Homo sapiens: one gene and its partner. The protein of the gene in region 1 interacts with the protein of each later gene in a pairwise test. Each region holds a gene or a part of one and is shown on either strand. Other genes may lie near its edges.

The links.
Region 2: the proteins of TTYH2 (region 1) and COPB1 interact in binary tests that used the Homo sapiens proteins (3 or more experiments, as listed by UniProt).

What each region holds. Positions count from the first base shown.
Region 1 is NC_000017.11:74,230,394-74,237,665, forward strand, and holds part of TTYH2 (protein tweety homolog 2), read left to right. Parts: intron 1-494; coding exon 495-606; intron 607-6,900; coding exon 6,901-7,121; intron 7,122-7,272. UniProt on the Homo sapiens protein: Calcium-independent, swelling-dependent volume-regulated anion channel (VRAC-swell) which plays a pivotal role in the process of regulatory volume decrease (RVD) in the brain through the efflux of anions like chloride and organic osmolytes like glutamate.
Region 2 is NC_000011.10:14,468,690-14,475,961, forward strand, and holds part of COPB1 (coatomer subunit beta), read right to left. Parts: intron 7,257-7,272; coding exon 7,096-7,256; intron 5,927-7,095; coding exon 5,806-5,926; intron 875-5,805; coding exon 647-874; intron 172-646; coding exon 1-171. UniProt on the Homo sapiens protein: The coatomer is a cytosolic protein complex that binds to dilysine motifs and reversibly associates with Golgi non-clathrin-coated vesicles, which further mediate biosynthetic protein transport from the ER, via the Golgi up to the trans Golgi network.

The DNA of each region.
Region 1 (7,272 bases):
CAACACATGTCATTATCCATATGTCCAAACCTATAGAATGTGCAACGCTGAGAATGAACCCTAGTGGAAGCTGTGGGCTCTGGGTGATGATGTGTGCATCTGGGCTCATCAGTTGTAATGGATGTACCACTCTGGTGCAGGGTTTTAGGGTGGAGTAAGAGGCTGTGCGTGTGTGGGGCAGCAGATATATGGGAACTCTCTACTGTCCACTTAATTTTGCTGTGAACCTAAAACTGCTCTAAAAACAAGCTTTTTTTTTTTTTTGGAGACAGAGTCTAGCTCTGTCACCCAGGAGGGAGTGCAGTGCCATGATCTTGGCTCACTGCAACCTCCACCTCCTGGGTTCAAGCAATTCTATGCCTCAACTCAACCTCCTGAGTAGCTGGGATTACAGGCATGAGCCACCGCACCCAACCCTAAGCTTATTTTTTAATATAAGCAAACATTCTCCTCTGTGTATCACCTCTAACCTCTGTTTGGGATCTTGCTTATAGTGCTGCGGTGGGCGTTGGTTTCTATGGAAACAGCGAGACCAACGATGGGGCGTACCAGCTGATGTACTCCTTGGACGATGCCAACCACACCTTCTCTGGGATCGATGCTCTGGTAAGGCTCCCGGGCAGCTGGCCGGGTACAGGCACAGCCCACAAGGTCAGCGTGGTCAGAGCAAGGGCCCCCGTCAGATCCCAGCTAGCTCAGCTGCACACGGAGGGGCTGTGTGACGCCTGAGGGCTGGACCCCCGCCTGCGCTGCAGTTGCCTCTGCTGGGGCAAATGGGCAATTGTGCGTTCCAAGCCTGCAGGGGTGGCAGGGATGGGGGTGAGGACTAAAGGAGGCAGCTGTGGGATCAAACCCCATTTTCCAACAAGCCGAACACTTTCTGATTTGTCAAAGGAGACCTTGAACATGGAAAATCAGCCCCACTGCATTTTTTGTTTTCATTTTAAGTGCTGCATATGGAGTATTGCAAGGTCCAGGAGATGCCAAGAGGAAAAAACTCTCTTCAGAGACAACTGAGGGCTGGGCGTGGTGGCTCACTCCTGTCTTCCCAGCACTTTGAGGGAGGCCAAGGCATGTGGAGCTCAGGAGTTTGAGACCAGCCTGGGCAACATGGCAAAACCCTGTCTGTACCAAAAATACAAAAATTAGCCAGTTGTGGTGTGGTTCCAGCTACTTGGGAGGCTGAGGCAGGGAGATCACTTGAGCCTGGGAAGCGGAGGTTGCAGTGAGCCAAGATCACGCCACCACACTCCAGCCTGGGCAACAGAATGAGACTCCATCTCAAAAATTAAAGAAAAAAAAAAAATTGAAGAGCCCCGTGATGTAAGGTAGTGGAGACCTGCCCCAGCTCCTCGGAGCTCTGGCTTCCAGGCAGTGACTCCAGGTGGGGGCTCACAGTGAAGGATGCTCTGGCCTGGCCAGAGGAGGTGTCAGACTCTTAGGGGAAGGGGAAGGCTACTCTGCCAAGCCAGGGCTGGATTTTGTGGCAGACGCTGCCTGATACACACGAGCCTTTTGCTGGGGCTGCCACCCCTCTGCTGGGGACCTGGCCCAGGGAGGAGCACGACAAGGGTGGACATCTGAGGACTTGGTTCCCTGAAAACTGCCTCTGCCTTTTCTACCCCAGCTGCCTGGAATTGGAGTTTTCCCACAGTTTGACCTTGGCCCCCACACACGTCATTCTCACTCTAAGCACCAGACCTTTTCAGCTGCTTATCCGAGCAGCCTCTGCCACAAAATCCAGCCCCAACAGGAGAATTTGGCCATTGCCCCGGCATCCTCCAGAAGAGGATTGGACCCCATTTGCCCCCCTCCTGCTCCCTTAAGCTCCTCTAAGGCTTTAATCCCTCAGTCAACAAGGGGGGTCGGGGGTGTCACCTTAAAGAGACAGCTGTGCTGCTCCTCCGTGCCCAAGTCAATTGTGGGAGGAGGCCCTGGCCTCCAGAAAGGGGCTGAGGGTGGCTACAAAACCAGGGGCCCTGGTCCTTTGCAGAGTTCATTCCACCGCCCGTGTCCACTGGGACCCATCCCCTTAGCTGAGCGCTGAGTCCCAGTGCGGAGATGCTAGTCTGGAACAGCCTTGCGCGGTGAGCTGGGGCGGCTGGGTTGGAGGAGCTGAGGGACAGCCAGCTCAGGCCTGGGAGGCAGAGGTGTGGCCTGCCTGGGGAGAACTCTCCCTCTGGGCACCCACCCTTGCCCCAGGCCCTGGTGGGGAAGGGCCCCATGGTCACTGCCCTCTAGGCTCTCTCTGCCCCTCCCTGCCATCCTGCTGCCTGCCTCCTCTTCACCCACCAGCACCAGGATCACTGGAGGAGGAACCTAGCCCCGAGAGGAAAATCCCCTGCCCTGCCCAGGAAGGCACCAGGGCCATGACCTTCACGGGTTTAGAGAAACTCCCAGAACTCCCTTATGGGAAAACATCAAGTCCTAGAAGTCCCTATCCCACAGGACGAGAGCTGCCAGGGAGGGGAGCTGGAACGGGCCCCCAGGCTGGGGCCTCCCACCCCATGGCCTGATGGTGCTCCAGGGCCAGGTTTGGACATTTCACAGCAGGTTCCACTCTCTGAAATCCCTGCTCCAGGGCCAGGTTTGGACATTTCACAGCAGGCCCCACTCTCTGAAATCCCCTGTGTTCCCAAAGAGAAGGGTTCTGTATCCCTGGAGATCAGCCCCTCGTCCTCTCCGTTGTTACCGAGAAGTGAGGTCAGGAGTCCCAGGGCTTCACACTGGTCCAGCCAGCCCATAGCTGCCTCCAGCCTGTGGGTGGTCACCTCCCCCTCTGGCGTGAACCCCTAGGGCCCAGGTGTAGCTGCTGCCTTGCCTCCAGGTGGAAAGGTGGCACTGGGTCCTTACTAGGACCTGTGAGGCTGGTTTGGGCCTCAGAGTGGACACCCAGCACACCAGTCCTCAGGGCTCCAGGGGAGGCAGCAGATCTTAGAAGACTTCCCAGATCCAAGGGGAGAAGTCCGGATATCAGATAAATGACTAGTGAGATAATGTCAGTGAAAGTGCTGGTAGACTGTAAAGTACACTCAGCTGTATGACTGTGATTATGAGTGCTATTAATTACTGTAATCACCTTGGGGTCAGCGGGAGGCTGGGATCCAGGACGCTGTGGGCGGCAGAGGCAGATGGGGGACTCGTCGACAGGTCAGGCAGGACCTGGATCTGGGCCTTGCCAGAGGCCAGATCATGCAGCTGAGTGGCCAACAAGAAGCCCTCTAGGGATGCACCCACAGAGTGGGGTGGGCCCTGCTCCAAGTCCTCCTTTCCTGGACTGGAAGCCCCATACCTATGCACGTCCAACTAGAGGGACACCTGTGCCTTGGTGGGTAGGGGCGGTGGTTCAGGGATCAGGCGGTCCTGGGAGGGCTGCACGCCCCAGTCTAGGGGAGTAGAGAGGAGTCGTTTTGGGATACCAAAACTTCCTGTACCTGGTAGCCAGCACGGCCCCTCCAGGCTCTCTCATGTGAGTCTGCAGCAGGCTGATGGGCAGCCCTCAGATGTAGAAACTGAGGCACAGGGAGGTTGCATTGCTGACCCGAGGTTGAAAATGTGTATGTTTCAGAGCAGAAACCAGAACCCAGGCCTCCTGGTCTTAGCCCCTTACCTCCACTGACCTGGCCCATCCACACTTCCAGATAAGCTCACTGAGCGCTGGAGAGTCCTCCCTCCCAGAAGTTTTCATACTTGAGCTTGCATCAGAATCACCTGGAAGGGTTGGTAAACACTGATTGCAGGGCCCTGCCCCCAGAGGTTCCGCTTCAGCGGTCCTGGGGCAGGGCTGAGAGCTTTTGCTTTTGTGAGTGAGTTCCCAGGGGGTGCATCTTACGCCCCTAGTCCCGGGACCACACTTGAGAACTGCTCTTTCCTCTAGACCGTGGTCTCCGCCACCTGTAGCTCGTCCCTAAGTCTGCCCAGCCTGGAAAACTGACCTGTCCCTCCTGTTCTCAGAGCTTTCCGTGAGAGAGAGCCTGATTCCATCTCTGGGTCATCCCACCTGTCCCTGCGGGGAGTATTATGTCCTGAAACTTTAAGGAATTGGGGATGGTATAGAGAAGTGGGGAGTTGTAAGTAGGTCACTGCTGTCATTCTTATTTTTTAAAATTTTAGGATCTTTTGAGCCTAGGAGTTCAAGAACAGCCTGGGCAGCATAGCGAGACCCCATCTCAAAAAAACAATTTTTTAGTTTTGTTTCCTGTGGGAAAATATCAGGAAGAAAGAGAAGGCATGACAAATACAAATACTGCCTTCTTTTTTTTTCCCCCTAAGGAGGAGTTTAAGAAATAGAGAAGTTAACTGTGAGAGAGTAGAACTGTGAGGGAGAAAACAAGTGGCCTCACAGAAAAAGTTTACAGATAATTTTTTAACAGCCCTTTACTCTGAAGTTTGTTTGATTTATAGAAATATAGAAATATAGAAATGTCACCTATTACTGGGTTTGTTCAGAATGGCACTATTCTTTGATGATAGTGCCATTTGTATAAATGTTTCCAAAGTGGTTGTACATTTATCTTATTAAATTGAACAGCCAAGTGTACTAGCATGACATTTAGTTACTGAATGTACTTTTACATGGTTTGGGGTCTTTTCCCCTGTGCTTCGGGCTGTCGAATCTGCACATGGTAGAGTGTCTCCGTACTCTGGTATCTCTTAGTCCTTAACCAACTCGTAAGAACCAAGCATAAGCCAGAAAACGGAACAAGCCGCTGACACTGAAAAAATAAAACAAAATGAAACAAAGAGAGCCATTCTCTTTTCTGGAACTAGGAACTCCCAGCGTAGCGCAGATGTAAAAGGCCACACAGCTGATGTGAAGTCCCCATAACACAGAGAACACCGTTGGCCTCCGAGAGTGGAATCTAATCGGCCTTGCTGATCTCACTGTGGGAAGTTTCTGCCTCTTCTTCTGTGTCGTTTTTATCTCCCAGACCCGTGGGAGCTGAAGGCTGCCGAGTGTGGATTAGTGCACACTGCCCCACTCCCGGCCCGTTGTGCTTCTTGGTTTAGTGTGACAGTTTCAGAACAACAAAGCCCTTTCTCCGCTCGCTGCCAGCAAGGGCGTGCTTGGGGCTGCCAAGCTGCACCCCGGGGTTCTGCAGGCACCCTGGGTCTGGGCTGTGGGAAAGTCCCGCTAACCAGTACGAGCCCTGCCTGTGCTCTTCAAAAGCCAGCTAGGGTTGACCACTTGGACCATTAGAAATGGATGCACATGGCCGGGCGTGGTGGCTCATGCTTGCAATCCCAGCATTTTGGGAGGCCGAGGTGGGTGGATCACTTGAGGCCAGGAGCTCGAGAGACCAGCCTGGCCAACATGGTGAAACTGTCTCCACTAAAAATACAAAAATTAGCCGGGCATGGTGGTGCACACCTGTAGTCCTAGCTACTTGGGAGGGAGGCTGAGGCAGGAGAATCACTTGAACCCGGGAGGCGGAGGTTGCAGTGAGCCAAGATTGCACCACTGCACTCCAGCCTGGGTGACACAGAGCGAGACTCCATCTCAAAAAAAAAAAAAAAACAAAAAAGAGAAAGAAAGAAATGGATGAACGGGCTACTCTGGCACACTGCCTAGAGGGTAGCCCTGCTCTGCAAGGAGCAGTACCTTTAAATATAAATAAATAAATAATGTTTTTAACTGGATGGCCAGCCGTCAACTTTCTATTTCTGTCTTGCATTGGCAGATGTTTCCTTCAGGGTCCACTCAACCCCAGGCCCTTAGGGCTCAGCCAAGGGACAGGAGCCTGTCTGCCCACCCAGCAGGACACACATCCAGGGGAGGATGTGAATACAAGGAGAAGGCGCCGGTTTCCTCCTCCTGCCTCATGTCCAGGCTCCTCAGAGACAGGATCGCAGCTGTTTTTGTTTTTGCAAAGTCCCATTGTCCTGCCTTCACTCAGCGTTCAGGACCCGGTGTGCTGCGGCTAGTGCCACAACAAAGCTTTTCTCTTATAGAACAATTAGAAATCCTATTGTGGGGATACAAGGTCAAGGTAGCAACATAGAGTCTGTTTCTCTAAAAGAGAATTTGTAAGCCAAAGTGCTGAAAGTTTTAAGAGAATCTTCAAAGAATAATGGATTATTTTGTTGGTTTCTCCATCTGGGTGTCTCTGTATATAGTAAGGTATAGTAATGAATGCATACGTTTATTCCAGCCCTTTACAGCAGGGGCCACGTGGTGGGCACACAGGATAGCCTCCTTAGTAGAGAGCAACAGAGGCTCCAGAGGGCAGGGATGTGCCCACACTCCCAGCGCCAGAGGCTAGACCTGGCCTCAGCCTGCAACACATAATGGTGTGCTCCTTTGGCGCCAGCATTCTCTCTCTCGGAGCCCAGATCCTGTTTAAGGCCAGGTCAGGGACTGCCCCCTGGTTTGAGGGACATGAGGACTGGGTGGGTAGTGGCGGCCTCTGTCTTCAGTCCTTCCTCCAGGGGCACAGGCTCGAGATCTTCAGGCCTGGGGCAGCATGGTGTGTTCATTCATGCCTAAGCAGGCCAGGCCAGCTTTTTTTTTTTTTTTTTCGACACAGAGTATCACTCTTGTCGCCCAGGCTGGAGTGCAATGGTGCGATCTTGACTCATTGCAGACTCCGCCTCCCGGGTCCAAGTGATTGTCCTGCCTCAACCTCCCAAGTAGCTAGGACTATAGGTACATGCCACCACACCTGGCTAATTTTTATATATTTTTTTGTAGAGACAGGGTCTCACTGTGTTGCCCAGGCTGGTCTCAAACTCCTGGGTTCAAGCAATCCGCCTGCCTCAGCCTCCCGAAGTGCTGGGATGACAGGCATGAGCGTAATTATCGCACCTGGCCAGGCCACCTTCTGCTGCCTGCAAAGACCTCTTCCGGGATGAGAATCAGAAGCTCTACCTCCATGGCTTTTGCCCCCTGCTCCTCCCTAGGTTTCCGGAACTACCCAGAAGATGAAGGTGGACCTAGAGCAGCACCTGGCCCGGCTCAGTGAGATCTTTGCTGCCCGGGGCGATTACCTGCAGACCCTGAAGTTCATACAGCAGATGGCGGGCAGCGTTGTTGTTCAGCTCTCAGGACTGCCCGTGTGGAGGGAGGTCACCATGGAGCTGACCAAGCTATCCGACCAGACTGGCTACGTGGAGTACTACAGGTGAAGGACCGGTGGGAGGCAGAGGGAGGGGCAGCAGCGGCTACATCAGCTTTGTTTATCCAAACCTGCATGTTGAGCTCCAGGTGGAGAAGGGCCACTGGAAAGTATTTTTTTTTTGTTTTGTTTTTTTAAGACAGAGTCTTGCTCTGTT
Region 2 (7,272 bases), on another chromosome or scaffold:
TTTAGATGCTAGGGGATCTGCTGCCTCTTTCCTCTGTGTGTTACCCATTGCTGCCAGTAAACTCAGCTGAAACTGATCTTCCTTGCAGTTCATTTCATTCTTAGCAGTTAGTTGCATGAAGGAAATGGGGTCATCAGGCTGTACTGTCACATTCCTCTTTTCAGATTCTTTCTGTGTTGAGAATATAACAAAGTCTCTCTTTAATATGAAAAGATAGTTTTTTAGAGGCTTTTGACAGAGACAGCCCTCACATATGAAAACTGAAAAATCAACAAAACAACAAGAAAACCCACAAAGCACTTTTCTTTTCTTTTTTTTCTTCCTGAGACAGGCTGTTACTCTGTTGCCCAGGCGGAGTGCAGTGGTATGATCACAGCTCACTGCAGCCTCGAACTCTTAGATTCAAACGATCCTTCATCCTCAGCCTTCCAAGTAGCTGGAATGACAGGCACATACCACCATGCCTGGCTAATTTTCTCATTTTTTTTGTTGAGACAGGGGCTTGCTATGTAGCCCACACTGGTCTCAAACACCTGGCCCCAAGGAGTCCTCCTGCCTCAGCCTCCCAAAGTGCTGGGATTACAGGCGTGAGCCACTGCACGAAGAGACACAAAACACTTTTGTTGCCTCATCATATATACCTTACCTTTTGGGATAATTTCTCTTCTTCTAGTTTAGCAGATAACATGTGAGAAAGGGACTGTCTGCATTCCTTATTGAAAATGTCATTCATTAAAGGTGAACATTCAGACAAGACCTTGAGGCACAGGGAAATTCGATCCACATCATCATCAGTAATTGGCTTCTTAGGAAGAGAGGATTTTCCCAAATGCAGGATAGTAGCCATGAGCAACATAGCCTCAGCAACAAAAGACTAAGAAAGTAAAGAAATCGGTTACTGATATTGTCTTGATTCTCAGATTGCAATCATGTCACTTCATTATAACTCACAATCTAAATTTTCACTTCACCTGAATAAGATTTCAAATTCTTTGGATTTTATGTCCATATCTGTTTTTGCATTCTTCTCCTTCCTTTCTACTCTTAACTGCCACTCTCTAAGACCTGCATTAATCCTCAATTAGAGACAGCAGAGGCTTTTTAACTGTTTTCCCTTGCTCCAGTCCTTCTCTGTAACCACTTCATATGCTGATGCTGTCCTTTTTAATCCCAACTACAGAAAAGTTAAAAGAATGATATACTTTACCAATTGTTAACATTTTGCCACATTTGCTTACCTATTCTGTATATGTACACTTATTTTTTTTGGCTGACATGTGAAAAAGTCTTCACCTCATAAATGCTTCAGCATTCATCTCCTAAGAGTCAGAACAGTTTCCTACAAACCACAATTTCATTTTCTCATCTGAAAAATTCAACAATTCCAAAATACAGCTTCTATACTCTGAATTCAAATAAATCTCCCTAAATTGTCTTAAAATGTTTTTGTTTTATTTTTTAAATCCAGGATCAGCTTCATGCATTTTATCCCTCTTAATCTAGACCAGTTCTCTGCCGTTTTGTTTTTAATCGCACTAACTTTTTTAAAGAACTGAGGCCAGTTGTTTTATAGAATATCCCACACTTTTGATTAGAATACCAGATAGGTGATGTTTTGTATTTCACCCTGTACTGCATCACAAGGTACCTAAAGTTAGGCTGTCCAATTATTGTGCTGCTAAGCGTGATCACCTGATGCTGCTATCTTAATCTTTATACTGCACCAATCATTTCATTCCCTATGTAAATACCTTTAATGAATGTCAGCCTTCATACTGAAGTCCGTATTACTTAGCTCGCTATTCAAAGTCTTCCACAAGTGATTGCAACTTACTTTTTTAGTCTCATGTAGCATTATCCTGACACATATGCTCTAAGCCCTTGCCAAATTGCCTTTGGCTGAGTACTGATCTGCACACATGCATGAAAAACTACTGGAGGCCTGGGAAAAACCAGCAGAAGAGTAAGTATATGTCCCCCAAGTTTGGATACTGTCTCCAAAAGGAGAGGAAAGAGAGGAGGGGACAGAAAAAAAAATCCGAGGAAATGACTGAAAATTTCCCAAACTGATGGAGATATAAACCTGCAAACCCAACAAGCTCAATGAACCACAAGTACAGCAAACATGAAGAAAACCACACTAAGGCATATCCTAATCAAATTACTGAAACCAAGTGAAAAGGAGAAAATCTAAAACCAGTGGAAGAAATACACACACACACACACACACACACACACACACACACACACACACACTCTCTCTCTCTCTACACCCAGGGAGATAAGAATGACAGTAGACTTCTCACCAAAAAGCCAGAAGACAATGGAGCTTTACTTTTACACTACTGGGAAAAAAAAACAGAAGACTTAGAATCCTATACCCACAAAGGTAACTTTCTAAAGTGTACAAAAAAATAGGCTTTTTCCAGACAAAAACTGGAACAATCTGTTGCCAACAAATCTGCACTATAAGAAAAGTTAAAGCAAATTCTTTAGGCAAAAGATGTATGATACCAGAAACTTAGTCCTACACAAAGAAATGAAGAGTGTTGGAAATGGCATAAATGAAGGAGTGCCAGTGAGATTATAAGCAACCAAACTTCCTTCTTGTACCAAACAGTGCAAACATTATTAACTCGGTATGTTACAAGAAACTGGCTCTTTTAAGCAGGTATCAGTAAACACTCCCAACTTCCAGAAGTGATGCAACCAGGAGAGGAAAGCAAATTCAACTCTGAGATAAAAAAATGTTGGAGACTTTTAAAAAACATACTTTAAAGATTATACTGTGACCAGACCTGAATAAATAAATGCCCACAAAAGAGTTACAAAATAAATTATTGCTCAAAAATCAAATCAATTAAGGGATAATATACCTTGTAAATTATCTGGCTCTCATTTATGGCTTTTCTTATAATGGAATTAAAACAAAAACAAAAAGAACCTGGCCAGGCACGGTGGCTCATGCCTGTAATCCCAGCACTTTGGGAGGCCGAGGTGGGCGGATCACCTGAGGTCAGCAGTTCGAGACCAGCCTGGTCAACATGGTGAAACCCCAGTCTCTACTAAAAATACAAAAAAAATTAGACAGGCGTGGTGGCAGGCGCCTGTAGCCCCAGCTACTCGGGAGGCTGAGCCAGGAGAATTGCTTAAACCCAGGAGGCGGAGGTTGCAGTGAGCTGAGATCATGCCATGGCACTCCGGCCTGGGCAAGAAGAGTGAGACTCCGTCTAAAAAAAAATTTTTTTTTAGATCAAGCTGTTAGTCTCCAAAAACGAAGGAAATATGAGTGATGTGAGTGAAAGTGTTTCAATTTAGAAACCTGCTGTATAGATAACCAACATAATACGAAAGCTGAAGGAATCAAAAGGAGTCCCATTGCTACAGGCCCAATTTGAATGTCAGAAATTGCTGTGGTAGGACATTGTAACCAACTCTGCGCTACTACCACAAATGTTCTATGGATTCTGTTTCTTAAATAATAAGAGTTGAAACTACTTGATCAGTGGCAGCATAATGGATGTTGTCTTAGCAGGCATGAAAACATTCATTTCTTTCTACATCTCCATCAGAGCTCTTGGGTGACCAGCTAAATTGTCAATGAACAGTAATATTTTAAAAGGAGTCTTTTATTTCTGAGCAGTAGGTCTCAATGGTGAGCTTAAAATACTTAGTAAGCCATCCCGTAAAGAGGATGTGCTGACATCCAGGCTTTGTTGTTCCACTGACAGAGCACAGACAGAGTTGATTAAGCACAATTCTTAAGAGCCCTAGGATTTTCAAAATGGGAAATGAGCAATGGCTTCAACTTAAGTTACTGGTTGTATTAGCCCTTACCAAAAGAGTCAGCCTATCCTTTGAAGCTTTGAAGCCAGGCACCGACTTCTCTCTAGCTACCAAAGTCCTAGATGGCATCTTCTTCCAATATAAGGTTGTTTAGTCTACACTGAAAATCTGTTGTTTAGTGTGGTCACCTTCACCAATGATCTTGGCTAGATCTTCCAGATAACTTGCCACAGCTTCTCCATTAGGACTTGCTACTTCATGTCAAACTTTTACATTATGAAGACGGGCTTATTTCCTTAAACCTCATGAATCAACCTCTGCTAGCTTCAAACTCTTCTTCTGAAGCTTCCTAACCTCTCTCAGCCTTCATGGAATTGAAGAGAGTTAAGGTCTTAGTCTGGATTAGGCTTTTGGCTTAAGGGAATCTTGTGGCTGGTTTTATCTTCTATCCAGACCACTCAAACTTTCTATCAGCAATAAAGCTATTTCGCTTTCTTTCTTCTTCTTTTTTTTCCTCGAGACGGAGTCTTGTTCTGTCTCCCAGGCTGGAGTGCAGTGGTGTGATGTCAGCTCACTGCAACCTCTGCCTCCCATGTTCAAACAATTCTCCTGCCTCAGCCTCCCAAGTAGCTGGGAGTACAGGCGCCTGCCACCACACCTGGCTAATTTTTGTATTTTTAGTAGAGACAGGGTTTCACCATGTTGGCCAGGCTGGTCTCGAACTCCTGACCTCGTGATCCGCCTGTCTCGGGCCTCCCAAAGTGCTGGTGTGAGTCACCACGCCTGCCAAATGTTTCACTTTCTTATCATTCATGTGTTTACTGGAGTAGCACTTTTAATTTCCTTTAAGAGCATTTCCTTTGCATGCATAACTTGGCTACCTACTTGGCAAAAGCAGCCTAGCTTTTGGCTTAGCTCAGCTTTTGACATGCATTCCTTACTAAGTTTAATTATTTCTCACTTTTGATTTAAAGTGAAAGACATGTGACTCTTCCCTTCACTTAGAAGCCACTGTAGGATTATTAACCGGCCTAATTTCAATATTGTGGTATCTCAGGGAATAGAATAGGGAGGCCCAAGGAGGAAAGAGACGGGGTAACAGCCGGAACACACACAACAATTATTGATTACGTTTACTATTTTATATGGGAATGGTTCCTGGCATCCCAAAACAACTATGATAGTAACATTAAAGATCACTGATAACAGATCACCATAACAGATGTAATAATAATGAAAAAGTTTGAAATATTGTGAGAATTACCAAAATGTAACACAGAGATATGAAGTGAGCATATGCTTATTTGGAAAAATGATGCTAACAGACTTGCTCAACTCAGGGTTCCCACAAACCTTCATTTGTTTAAAAAAAAAAAAAAAAGCAATATGTGCAAAGTACAATAAAATGAAGTATGCCTGTAAATGCTATGTAAATAATTGTTACACTGCATTGTTTTCAACTTTCTATTATTTTTTACTGTTTATCATTTTTTAAAAAAGATATTTTCAATCCATAGTTGGTTGAATCTGCAGGTGCAGAAGCTGTGAATATGGAGGACCAACTGCATACCATTGTAAATGGGTGTTTGGTTAGAACGGTCAGAAGCTACAAAGCAGGCATGAACTACAGATGAGAATAACTTAAGAGACATTCTGGGATAAAACAGACAATGACCGAATGGATGCAGATGCTGGAGAGAAGGACATTTCCTTCACTGGTCCTGAACTAATCCCAGCAAACTGAGGTGACTTCATAAATCCTTTCTCTTCCACTGGAATAATCACATGACATTGTTATTGTATTACTTTGTCAATTTTCATTTTTTTAAAGCCCAAACAGAAGAGGAAGATACTTTATCAATTTTAGAGTAATATATTACTGTGTCCACTTCTGCTATTAAATCATAAACTCTTTCATGACAGAAACTTAGCATTAATTTTTGAGTCCCTCACTGTTCAATGCATATAGTAGGCACTCAATGTTTAATTGTTGGTTAAATGTAAAATAAATGAACTTACATTTTGCTTTTTCTTCTCCTGAACCAAAGCTACATAGCGCAATGCAATCTTGGTCAGAGTTGTGGCAAGGGAGGCAGCAACAAAGAAATCTCCATCCAGAAGGAATCCTCTCAAGGGAGGTCTGCAAAGCAACCAAGGAAAATCAAACCCACCAACTTGCTAAGCAGCATGCAGCTTCTGTATAAATGAATGATATAGGCCTATTAAACACTCTTATTACCATCCTTCAGTGATAAGGATACCTTAGCTAACTAACTCCTTAGCTCCCAGAAGAAAGAAGGAAAAAGAAAAATAATACATGACTTTAAAACTTATCTTTGGCCAGGTGCAGTGGCTCACACCTGTAATCCCAGCACTTTGGGAGGCCAAGGCGGGCGGATTACCTGAGGTCAGGAGTTCGAGGACAGCCTGGCCAACATGGTGAAACCCCGTCTCTACTAAAAATACAAAAATTAGCTGGGCATGGTGGCACAAACCTGTAATCCCAGCTACTCAGGAGATTGAGGCAGGAGAACTGCTTGAGCCCAGGAGACAGGTTGCAGTGAGCCATGATCGCGCCACTGCACTCTAGCGTGGCCGACAGAGCAAGACTCTGTGTCAAAAAAAAAAAAAAAAAAAAAAAAAAGAAAACTTATCTTTGAATGACACAAAAGCCATCAGAATATGGAAAGATACAATATTTAATTAGGGGCATACGTAATTGCAGCTAATGAAGTACCTCCGAATTCCAGCTTACCTGTTTATTTACTGGGTAAGCCTCAAATTCTTCTTCCATAAAATGGAGATAATATATTCTATCTCAAAGGCTTATTGTCAAGACTATATGAGACAAACTACTTAGCACAATGCCTAGCACTTAGTGGGTATTCAGTAAAATTTTAGGCAAAGATTTCACCATCTTCACCATTAAAATTTACTTAATAGAAAAATGCACAATTTTATTCCATCATTTAGAAATTGAAAAATCTTCAAAATGTTTTCAGATGCTAATAAACAACAAAACTCAAATATCTTCAGTTACCCCCACTTAGCATTTTCTGAGTAAAAATAATTTGAGTTTAAACAGAACAGTTATTTCCATAAAAACACTGGAAGGGACAGAGAATTAAAACCATCAATACAATTCCTAGGGGGAAGAACTTAAACATCCTCCGCTTCTCAAGTACCTTAAATGGCAAAGATTTTCATTTTGGTTGCAAAAGCAAGAGGAAAGAAATCATTTGACTGTCTTACATACAAGAGTAATAATAAAAGTAGTACAGCTGGCAGGGTATATGTGCCATAAATTACCTGTCTTCCTCTTTCTTGGTGGGTCTAGAACTGCTAAGGGCACTCTGAGTTGCATAGGTACCCATTTCAGTAACCAATTTCTGAACTGGCCCTACAGTTATTTCTTCTTCAGGTTTTAATTCACCAGCTTCTTTCTTTATTTCTGACTCTACAATTGGGATCTAAAAGTCAATTGGA